Linked DNA regions of Homo sapiens: region 2 is linked to region 1. Evidence: fine-mapped expression QTL. Tissue or cell type: whole blood. Region 1 holds a variant in brackets; the other region holds the start of a gene. All regions are shown on one strand. Distances are from middle to middle.

The links. PIP is the estimated chance that this variant, and not a neighbour inherited with it, causes the effect.
Region 2: it holds the start of ABHD14B, and the variant in region 1 is fine-mapped to the expression of ABHD14B in whole blood (INTERVAL, PIP above 0.99).

Annotation. Positions count from the first base shown.
Region 1 is chr3:51,598,901-51,602,900 of GRCh38, reverse strand. All of the region lies in intron 3 of RAD54L2 (RAD54 like 2), which reads right to left. Among named protein-coding and RNA genes, the nearest start is that of RAD54L2, 62 kb to the right of the region's middle. The variant G/A (reference allele first, on the strand shown) is at 1,670.
Region 2 is chr3:51,970,988-51,978,608 of GRCh38, reverse strand. ABHD14B (abhydrolase domain containing 14B) reads left to right here and starts at 4,560. Exons shown (of 4, transcript NM_001146314.2): 1 at 4,560-4,644; 2 at 6,911-7,149. The coding sequence starts at 6,939. It overlaps ABHD14A-ACY1 (ABHD14A-ACY1 readthrough), which reads right to left and starts at 3,545. Exons shown (of 17, transcript NM_001316331.2): 1 at 3,405-3,545; 2 at 527-738; 3 at 235-350. The coding sequence starts at 662. ABHD14A (abhydrolase domain containing 14A) reads right to left here and starts at 3,545. Exons shown (of 5, transcript NM_015407.5): 1 at 3,405-3,545; 2 at 527-738; 3 at 235-350. The coding sequence starts at 3,473. RefSeq lists silencers at 2,342-2,636, 3,242-3,621, 4,452-4,621, 4,842-4,991 and enhancers at 4,222-4,401, 4,435-5,371.

The sequences.
Region 1 (4,000 bases):
TCTGTCTCTAAAAAGGAAGCACCACCCCAGACTTTACCTACTCTCCCTTTCTTCATAACACTTATACCTTCTGACATATTGTTTATATACTTGTTTACCATTTATCTCTACCTACTAAAATGAAAATCCCATGAGGAGAGGCATTTTTGTTCCCCATTCCCAATGCCCACGACAATGCCTGGCAAACAGCAGGTGCTCAATAATTATTATTGAATGACTGGATGAATGTATCTCTTTCCCCTGCTGCTCTCGCACACTGTTATTGCTTTCCTAATGCCCCCTGGTCTGTTTGAGACTTGCCATTGTTTTAGGCAGTGATACTCATGGGGCTACACAGCTTTTTAAGCAACTTCGACTCCAAGCCGACTCTTAACTACCAGGTACCTAACTAACAAGAAATTAATTTCCACTAACACATTTGACAAAGTCTATTCTGATAGTCCTATAGATCATATGGTGATCTGTGGGCTGGAGAGTAGTCACGTAGATTCACAGACAGATGAATAACCTTATTCACTGAATGATAATGGTTCATCTAAAGGGAGATCTTTACCAAAGTGCCACTAAGTTCTATTCTCAGTTTTATCCTATTCCATTTTTTCCCCATGATGTGGATAGTCAGTAGTCTGACGGAATTCATTATCTAAGCAAAATGAAAGCACATGCCCCACAAAGACTTGTACATGAATGTTCATAGTGGTCTTATTTGTAATTGAAAACAAAAATAAAAAAACAATGCCCTGGGCCAAAAAAATAAGAAAGAAAACAAAGCTGGGTGTGGTGGCTCACGTCTTTAATCCCAGCATTTTGGGATGCAAAGGCAGGCGGATCACTTGAGGTCAGGAGTTCAAGACCAGCCTGGCCAACATGGTGAAACCGCGTCTCTATTAAAAATACAAAAACTTAGCTGGGCATGGTGGCAGGCGCCTACAATCCTGGCAACTCAGGGGGCTGAGGCAGAGGTTGCAGTAAGCCGAGATCGCACCACTGCACTCCAGCCTGGCGACAGGGCAAGACTCTTTCTCGAAAAAAAAAACAACAAAAAAACAAAAAAACACATGAAATGGATAAACAAATTGGGATACATATCCATAAAGTGGAATACTACTGAGTAATGAAAGGGAATGAGCTATTCAAACATACAAGAATGAATCTCTGGCTGGGTGTGGTGGCAAATGCCTGTAATCCTAGCACTTTGGGAGGCCGAGGAGGGCAGATTATCTGATGTCGGGAGTTCAAGATCAGCCTGGCCAACATGGTGAAACCCCGTCTCTACTAAAAAATATAAAAAATTAGCCCGGGCGCGGTGGCTCACGTCTGTAATCCCAGCACTTTGGGAGGCTGAGGTGGGCGGATCACGAGGTCACAAGTTCGAGACCAGCCTAACCAACATGGTGAAACCCCATCTCTACTAAAAATACAAAAATTAGCAGGGCGTGGTGGCACGTGCGTGTAACCCCAGCTACTCAGAAGGCTGAGGCAGGAGAATTCCTTGAACCCCTGAGGCAGAGGTTGCAGTGAGCCAAGATCACGCTATTGCACTCCAGCCTGGGGGACATAGCGAGACTCCCTCTCAAAAAAAAAAAAAAAGCCGGGCGCAGTGGTTCATGCCTGTAATCTCAGCACTTTGGGAGGCTGAGGCGGGTGGATCACAAGGTCAGGAGTTCAA[G/A]ACCAGCCTGGCCAAAATGGTGAAACCTCCTTTCTACTAAAGATAAAAAAAAAATTAGCCAGGCATGGTGATTAGTTAGGAAATACATTTATTTTAAAAATCGTGTTCATAACAGTACTCTTAATTTCAGTTCTTCTATTCCATATCTGTATCTCCTCTGCCCCACAGTGAGAACCTTGTTTCCAACAGCATCAATACATTTACTTATTTGCCCAGTCCTACAATATACTCAAAATAGGTGGGTTTTGTTTTTGTTTTTGTTTTTTTGAGATGGAGTCTCACTGTCACTGAGGCTGGAGTACAGTGGCGTGATCTTGGCTCACTGCAACCTCCGCCTCCTGGGTTCAAGCGATTCTCCTGTCCCAGCCACCCGAATTGCTGGGATTACAGGTGCATGCCACCACACTCGGCTAATTTTTGTATTTTTAGTAGAGACAGGGTTTCACGATATTGGTCAGGCTTGTCTCTGACTCCTGACCTCACGTGATCTATGCGCCTTGGCCTCCCAAAGTACTGAGATTACAGGCGTGAGCCACCGCACCCAGCCTCAAAATAGTTTCAAATAGTTTCATTACAAACAATAAATCTAAGTAAAGATCAAGGTTTTACTTTATTTTTTTGAGACAGAGTCTCACTCTGTCACCAAGGCTGGAGTGCAGTGGCATGATCACAGCTCACTGCAGTCTTGACCTCCCAGACTCAATGAGTCTTCCTGCCTCAGCCTCCTGAGTAGCTTGGACTACAGCTGTACACCATGCCTGGATAATTTTTAAATTTTTTGTAGTGATGGAGTCTCATTATTTTGTTCAGGCCAGTCTTGAACTCCTGGGCTCAAGGGATTCTCCTGCCTTGGACTCCCAAAGTGCTAAGATCATAGGTGTAAGCCATTGTGGCCAGCTCTAAGATTTTTCTTTTTTACAGTACTTTTTTCCATATAATATGTCCCACTGAAGCTATATAGACAAGAGTACTATATTAAAAGTTACTTGGGGCCAGGTGCGGTGGCTCACGCCTGTAATCTCAGCACTTTGGGAGGCCGAAGCAGGCGGATCACAAGGTCAGGAGTTCAAGACCAGCCTGGCCAGCATGGTGAAACCCCGTCTCTACTAAAAATATACTAAAAATACAAAAATTAGCCAGGCATGGTAGCAGGTGCCCATAGTCAGTCCCAGCTACTTGGGAGGCTGAGGCAGGATAATCACTGGAACCCAGGAGGTGGAGGTTGCAGTGATCCGAGATCACGCCACTGCACTCCAGCCTGGGTGACGGTGAGGCTCCGTCTCAAAAAAAATAAAAAATAAAAAAGTTACTTGGGGCCAGGCACAGTAGCTCATGCCTGTAATCCCATCACTTTAGGAGGCTGAGGCGGGTGGATCACTTCAGGCCAGGAGTTTGAGACTAGCCCGGTCAACATTGTGAAATCCCATTTCTACTATCTGGTTGTTGCAAAAGTAATCGCGGTTTTTGCCCTTTTTTTTTTTTTTTTGGTAAAAAATACAAAAATTAGCTGGGTGTGGTGGGGTACACCTACAATCTCAGCAATCTCAGCTACTCAGGAGGCTGAGGCAGGAGAATTGCTTGAACCTGGGAGACAGAGGCTGTAGTAAGCCAAGACTGAGCCACTGCACTCCAGCCTGGGTGACAGAGCATGAGACTCTGTCCCAAAAAAAAGAAAAGAAAAGAAAAGCTACTTGGATTATTTTTTTTCACATTTTTCCCACCTTTATTCAGGTTTGATTGTATACTATTTATATAAAACTAATAAAAATCAAGATAATGATCATGTGTCACCCCTGAAAGTTTTTCTTATGCCGCTTTAAAGTCCTTCTCTCCTCTCTCTGCCCCTAATCCTATCCCTAGAAAAGCACTAAGCTGCTTTCTGTCATTAAGGATTGGTTTGTATTTTCTAGACTTTTAATATAAATGGAATCACATGATGTATTCTCTCTTGCTCTCTCACTCTCTTTTGGAAAAACTCTAAAACCATGTTTTTCCTCTGCTCTCACACCACTACAACAACAATCATCACCACAGAAGACTTCTAGTGACCAAATGTGTGGAGATTTCTCCCCACCACCAAGCGACCAATTAATTCTGCAGTAGGTATCAGCTAGGTGTCCTCCAAATCAATTCTAACACTATCTACCTGGAAATTATGTCAGATAGTGTCAGATCCATTTAAGTGCTCAGTCACAAGACTGCCCCCCGACGCACACCAGTTGATAGGCTTCATGTTGGGGTTCCCATGAAGCCCTCTTTGGGTTCAATTAATTTGCTGGAACCACTCACAGAACTCAGAGAAATGTTTACTGGTTTATTATAAAGGATACA
Region 2 (7,621 bases), 370 kb before region 1:
AAAAATATATATAAATAAAATAAAAAAAAAGAAAGTATACTGCTTGTGAAGAGTTTTTATTTGCTCCATGACCTAGAATTCACACTGTAGTTTTCATAGTAGAAAATGAAAACACAGACTTTTTCATGGTGCCACCTTATGTTGTGACCTGCCACGGCCTGTCCAGACCCTAGGGTCCAGTTGCCTCCCAGCCACACTTAAGGCTTCCCTAGACAAAGGGGTGGGGGTGCTCACCTGGAAGGTCAAGGGCCACGGCCCGGTAGCCCCTCTGTGACAGTAGCTGCAGTGTGCCCAGCTGCTCCCACGTGTGAGAGTTAAAGGCCTTTCCATGAAGCAGCACCACCTCCACCCTGCAGGCACACAGGGGAATGTGTTTGCTGGGAACCTGGTGTAGCCCACCTTTCTTTATTCCTAGGCTTCTCCCATTGCCCTCCCAGGACCTGAGCACCCTGAGTATAATGGGGGTCCCACACAGGGACTCCCCTTGAGCCTAGTCCCTCCACTAGACCCTTGGAGCAGCACCTACCTGTGTGCCTGGTTGAGTGGGAGCACCTCGCGGTAAAAGATGGGCGAGTTGCCAGGGGTGAGACCAGCCAGGACTGTGACATTGGGGTCTCCCCAGAGGCAGGAAGTCTGCTCAGGGGGGCCTGGCAGCCCCACATACAGTAGGAGCATGAGCAGCAGACTCAGGCCCAGCAGGGCTACCTGGGACCGGCTCATGGAGGTCTGTACCACAGTCTGGAGAGGGAGAGGAGAGGGAAAAGAGGCTGGAACTGAGTCCCTACAAGGACCCTGGATCCCATCCCAAAACCCCACCCAGAGTCCCCAGCAGAGGAAGAGCTCCAGCCCTTGCCCTTTCCCTTGCTCTGGGCAAAGTTCTGGGAGTTCACACTCAACTACTCCACATGCCAGGGCAAGCGCTCAGATACCTCACAGTGTGAGGAGGTGCATCTGAGGTGTTCTCTGGCACACAGCATGCTCAGTGACCGCCACCATCATGGCATCAGCTGAAACCACTTCCGTTCATCAAGCGCTTATGACAGCAGGCCCTGAGTGTGGCACTTCACATACAAGGTTCTTTTCCACCAAGAATGCTGGGGAGCAGACGTGATTATAGGTCTCTTATAGGTGAGGAAATGGAGGCTCAGAGAGGTACATTCTCTTGCCCAAAGTGCCAAGTAGCAAGTGGGGGAATTGGGGTTTGAACCTAGGAATGGGCTTCTAACTACCAGGCCACACTCGGTTTGCCAAGGAGGAACCCGTGGAGCTGGGAGATGATGGATGAACTGGAGCCTTGCAGGTGGAAAAAGTGATGAGGGCTATCAAAGGAGAAAGACTGCGCGCAAAGGGACCTCCCACTTAAGGGCATGTTTGGAAATGGTTCTTTTAATCTCACTGCATTTAATACTGCTAAAATCAGAACGCGTTTTACAATCGCATTATAACTAAGGTCTAACCCAGCTGTTATGAAGAGGCTCACAGAGAATGTCTTGTAATAGAGGAAAATGCTGAGGAGTGAGGGGCTGCAGGGCCAGGGAGGAGCATGGTACACCCAGAAATGAAAAGCACAGTGTAGAGGTTGGAGAGATGAATGCCGCCTGCTACTCCCCATCCTACACACAGACAGCTTCTGGCCAAATGACTGCTTCGTGGACTCCTCCAATCTGGGGTCTCTGCCACCCCAGAGGACAGCCCTTAGGACCCAGGACTCAAACAGGACAGGCCTTTGAGACTGCCACTTCCTGACCTTGTGTCTTCAGTTTGTCAGTAAAATGGGATAACCTCGTGGCTGCCCTCCTAAGCTTCCTGTGAGATTTAGATAATACCGTGGACTGGATCAGGGCTGTCCCTGTCATTTCTTGGGCCTAGGATGAGCACGCCTGCTTCCTTCCAGGAGTCCAGCAAACACATCTTTATTTTATTTTTATTTTTCTGAGACGGAGTCTTGCTCTGTCGCCCAGGCTAGAGTGCAGTGGTACAATCTCGGCTCACTGCAACCTCCGCCTCCCGGGTTCAAGCAATTCTCCTGCCTCAGCCTCCCGAATAGTGGGATTACAGGCTCCCGCCACCGCGCCCGGCTAATTTTTGTATTTTTTAGTAGAGACAGGGTTTCACCATGTTGGCCAGGCTGTTCTCGAACTGCTGGCCTCGTGTTTCACCCGCCTCGGCCTCCCAGAGTGCTGGGATTACAGGCGTGAGCCACCGCGCCGGGCCAGCACATCTTTATTGAGTGCCAACTGGGCGCCTGCCCGAACTAGGAGCCGGGGGCCCGTCTTGGTTCCTATTCATCCCTCCGGGATGTTTTGGGGATGTTTCCTGAGCCCGCATCCCCAGGCTTCGGGGTCGGGGGGCTTGTGAGCCACAGCAGCAGCCGCCTTTCTGCTGTTTCTGGAAAACCAGGACCTAGTGGAGGAAGAGCGCGTTCCTCTTTTCTTCCAGACCACTAACAACCTCAGACGCGCGTCTCTAACTGGGCGTTAGTCCAGATTCCCACCGGGCGCGAGGGACATTTCCTTGCTGCCCACTCGGGGCGCCCCCGCGCTTCTCCAAAGCGGGAAGGGCGGGGCTTAGGCTGTTGCCTTGGCAACCGAGGGTGCCCGCAGTACTAGGAAATTGTAGTGGACCTGCAGCTGGCCGCCTGCGGGGGTTTGCGGGGGGCAGGGTAAACTGTGCCCGGGTTAGGTCATTGGAATATGCGTTGACAATGACACACAGGTGCACACACGCACAAATACGAGTCTTGCCCCCACACGCTTTTCTTTTGCACAAGCTATTCCCTGCATGTACATGCAGCCTCTTTGCACACACACTGGCCCGTGTGCAATTAATCCCTTGTAATGGTACCCTCTACATCACGCACACAGTCAGGCATCAGGAAGCCAGAGAGACTGATGGAGATGCACACTTTGAAAACCACAGGCTGATCCTCAGAAATACTCAAGCACGGTCATACACACAACCGTAAGACTACACATTCACACAAGAAAGGCACATGCACAGGAAAGCAGACACGCACACACACACAAACCCCCAGAAATGCACACACGCAGACAGGTAGACACATACCCTTAAAATCACACGCACACAGAAATACACTCGGAAGACATAACGCTGACACAAGCAGGCAGACATCAACGAACACACCCCCCCCCCAAAAATATAAGCGCGCAGAAACCCACTGACGGACACCATGCAGACACACAAGCGTACACATACACCCAGACCCCCAAGAACATATGCAGACCCTGCGCGCGCACACACATTACACGCGCGCACATGCACATTCGCGGCCCCAGCGTCTGCTTCTTCCGCGGGACTCTGCCCCGGGGCGCCGGGGCAAGGGGCGGGGTAAAGACGGCCCTCCCCTGGGCCACCGGCCGGCCTCCCTCCCCCGGGAGACTCACCGGGCCCAACGGGATGAGCGGGCGGGCCCCGCCCAGGCGGAACCAGCAGCCGCACAGCGCCCCGACCATGGCTGCCTCCGCAGCTCCGCGGGCCGCTCCGGCTCTAGGCGGCCAGGAGCGCGGCCATCTCGGCGCGCCTGCGCACTCCGCAGCCGCGGGCCTGCAACCCAGTTACCGAGTCGTCTGCGTGGAGGGGGTGCTGGGGGCAGAGCCCCAGCGCTCTCTGGCCCGCTCCCCGCCCAGATTTTCGGAACTGTTTTTGGCTTGAGAGCCGGCGGAGAGCCATGTGGCTTCTTCTCAGTGGAACATCTCCACCCTGGCTCAGTTCTCTGGCCTGTATAATGGAGTTAAGGATAAAACCCACCGCACAGGGTTGTCCTAGGTTCTTAAGGACGGGTCAAGCCTCAGAACAGTGTCCGGAGCAGAGGCCTCGTTGTGTAAATGCCAGATATTGTTATGCAGCAGCTCCAGGTCTTGGCCGACCCACTTTCCTGACTCCTACCCACTCCTCCCCACCCCCTCCCCGACGCACACCCACGGTCAGAGCCTGGGCTGGCCCTGGGCTCGTTCACGTCTACTCATGGCGCCTGCCCTGGTTGGCGATGTGTTACCAACGTCTGGCCTGTCCCAGCCCAAGGCTCCGCGTGGCGACCAGGCCCAGCACTGGGAGGCTGTGCAGAGCGTGGCGTTTACTGCTTATTGCTACTCTGCAGAGGTTGGCAACATCTGACCCGCTCTACTGGCAGGAAACAGGCTCGGGGGCATTGGGAAAACGATCAAGGCCACTTGGCTGGACACTGGCGGAGCCTCGCACTCAAACCTGTCGGGCCTCAACTCCGTGCCAGGCCAACAAGTTGCCCTGGGCAGTTCAAGCTGGGGATAAGGGGGATGGGGAGCAGGAAGACAGCAGCAAGGATGCGATCCCGAAGGAACTTTCCTCCTCAGACTGCTCCATGTCCATGTGGGGCAGGTCGCTGAAGAGTTCGAAACCGTGCTCAGCACCGCGTTTGGGGCATGTGAGACCGAGAGGCTTTGGGAAACTGACGCCGCTGTGAGAACGAGTTTAGCGGAGTCTATGGACGCTGCGAGCTTGTGGCCACAAGAGGGCGCCCCGGAGCACGGCCCAGTCCCCGCCCCCGCTGGATGGGGCCCGGCCTCTTCCCAGCGTTCCTCCTCCGGCCCCAGGTCACCGCCAGCACGCGCCTGCTTCCCGTCTGCGCGAGTCCACGCAGCTCCCCAGGTACCCGCCCTGCACTCCTGACCCTTTCTTCTCTCCAGTCAAAATCCAACCCCACCTACCCCAAGTCTTCCTTTCTCGGATCCCTGGGTCCCCTCCTTGGGAGTTGCCACCATTCCCTCCCGGTGCTCCCTTCCAGAGCTAGCGAGCCAGAACCGTAGTCCGCGGAAGCAACCTGACCGCGAGGTCAACGCGTTGGGCCCCAGGTGGCAGCGCGTTGAGCACCCCGCATCCCCGGCGGGTCGCCTTTCCCACTGGGCGCTTCGGTTTCCGCCTCTAGAAAATGGGCTTTCCGGTGTGGAAGCGCGCCTGTGGTTCCAGCTACTGGGGGTGAGCCGGGAGGATCACTTGAGCCCAGGAAGGTCAAGGCTGCAGTGATCCATGATTGCGCCACTGCACTCCAGCCTGGACGACAGAGCGAGACATCTTCTCTTAAAAAAAAAAAAAAGAAAAAAAAAAAAACCGAAGAAAATGGGCTTTTAGTTCCGGCGCGGTGGCTCACGCCTGTAATCCCAGCACTTTGGGAGGCCAAGGTGGGTGGATCACTTGAGGTCAGGAGTTCCGGACCAGCTCGGCCAACATGATGAAACCCCGTTTCTACTAAAAATATAAAAATTAGGCCGTGCACGGTGGCTCACGCCTGTAATCCCAGCACTTTGGGAGGCTGAGGCGGGCGGATCACGAGGTCAGGAGATCGAGACCACCCTGGCTAACACGGCGAAACCCCGTCTGTACTAAAAAAAAAAAAACAAAAAATTAGCCGGGCGTGGTGGCGCGTGCCTGTAGTCCCAGCTACCCGGGAGGCTGAGGCAGGAGAATGGCGTGAACCCGGGAGGCGGAGCTTGCAGTGAGCGGAGATGTGCCATTGCACTCCAGCCTGGGCGACAGAGCGAGACTCCGTCTCAAAAAAAAAAAAAAAAAAATTAGCCAGGCATGGTGACGCACGCCTGTAAACCCAGCTACTCGGGAGGCTGAGGCAGGAGAATCGCTTGAACCCAGGAGGTGGAGGTTGCAGTGAGCCGAGATCATGCCACTGCACTCCATTCTGGGCAACAAGAGTGAAACTCTGTCCCAAAATAAATAAATAGAATAAAATAAAATAAAATGGGCTTTTTACCCCAATTTGGGCTCCCTCTGGCCTGCATTGACAACTCATGACCTGTAACTTACCGTTGATTGAGCACTGAGCCCTTACTACGTGCTAGGCATGGTACATGCATGGCCTTATTTAATCCTATCAACCACCTATGAGCTAGTACTATTGAATTATCCCCATTTATAGAAAAGGATAATAACGATGAGAATAAGAACAGTAATTGTAATGGAGCCCCACCACATATTGAGGTTTTACAGCAGGCACCCCCACTGATAATTTTTCTGTTTTTTGTTTTTTTGAGATGGAGTTTTTCTCTTGTTGCCCAGTCTGGAGTGCAATGGCGCGTTCTCGGCTCACTGCAACCTCTGCCTCCTGGGTGCAAGCAATTCTACTGCCTTAGCTTCCCAAGTAGTTGGGATTACAGGCGTGTGCCACCACAGCTGGCTAATTTTGTATTTTGAGTAGAGATGGGGTTTCTTTCTGCATGTTCATCAGGGAGATCTCGAACTCCTGACCTCAGGTGATCCGCCCGCCTCGGCCTCCCAAAATGCTGGGATTACAGGCGTGTGCCACCGCGCCTGGCCTAATGAGAGTTACATGTGACCATCAGCTGGCTCTTTTTTTTTTTTTTTTTTGTGACCGAGTCTCACTCTGTCACCCAGGCTGGAGCACAGTGGCACGATCTCGGCTCACTGCAACCTCTGCCTCCCGGGTTCAAGCGATTCTCCTGCTGAGTAGCTGGGACTACAGGCACGTGCCACCACACCTGGCTAATTTTTTTTTCTTTTTAGTAGAGACGGGGTTCCACCATGTTGGCCAGGGTGGTCTTGAACTCCTGACCTCAGGTGATCCACCCGCCTCGGCCTCCCAAAGTGCTGGGATTACAGGCGTGAGCCACCATGCCTGGCCGATAATTTTTCTTAAACTTTTAATTAAATTGCTAATTCTTGAAGTTGGCTTTATTGTTCCCATATTTCAGATCAAGAAGCTGAGGCCCCAGGTTACACACTAAAGTAAATGGCAGAGGCAGAAATAACACCTATGTCCTCCTGACCCCAAGGCATGTTCTTAAAGTTCTGGAAACCTCCTGGAGGCTTCCTTGCTGCTCCTCTGGGACTGCCACCCTGGGCAGGGTGTTCTGTGGCCCCTCATCATCGTGGTTTTGAACCACAGGCCCTTCACCAGCACAGCAGCAGCAGGCATGGCAGCAAGCGTGGAGCAGCGCGAGGGCACCATCCAGGTGCAGGGCCAGGCCCTCTTCTTCCGAGAGGCCCTGCCCGGCAGTGGGCAGGCTCGCTTCTCTGTACTGCTGCTGCATGGTATTCGCTTCTCCTCCGAGACCTGGCAGAACCTGGGTACACTGCACAGGCTGGCCCAGGCTGGCTACCGGGCTGTGGCCATTGACCTGCCAGGTACTTAAGGGGCAGGCTTCTGGGCAGGGTTTGGGGAGGTCTCATTAGGGACAGGGCCAGGTTCCTATAACATGTAGCCCCTCCCCACTCCAGGGGTGGGGGCGGTGGGATCTGGAGGACCCAGCCAGGCTGGGCCCTGAACTTGACAGCGTTTGGTCAAGCACACTGCAAGGGCCTCTGAGCAGTCTTGATCCAGATGTGGTCCTCACCGCCCAGCTGCTCCTCACTGTTACCTGGGCATTGTCTCAGTGTCTCTGAGCCTCTGTTTCCTCATCTGCAATGGGAGATAACCACACTCATGTTTTGGGCTCGCTCTAATGAGAATGGAATGAGATAATCCATGTGAGTATGTGGCTAGTACCTGACACAGAGTAATCGGTGCTCAGCCAATTGGAAGTAAAGTATTTTGACTGAATAATAACCATAGGCTTTTGGAAGCCCTAAGGAGTGAGACCTGAGTCTTCTGGGGGAC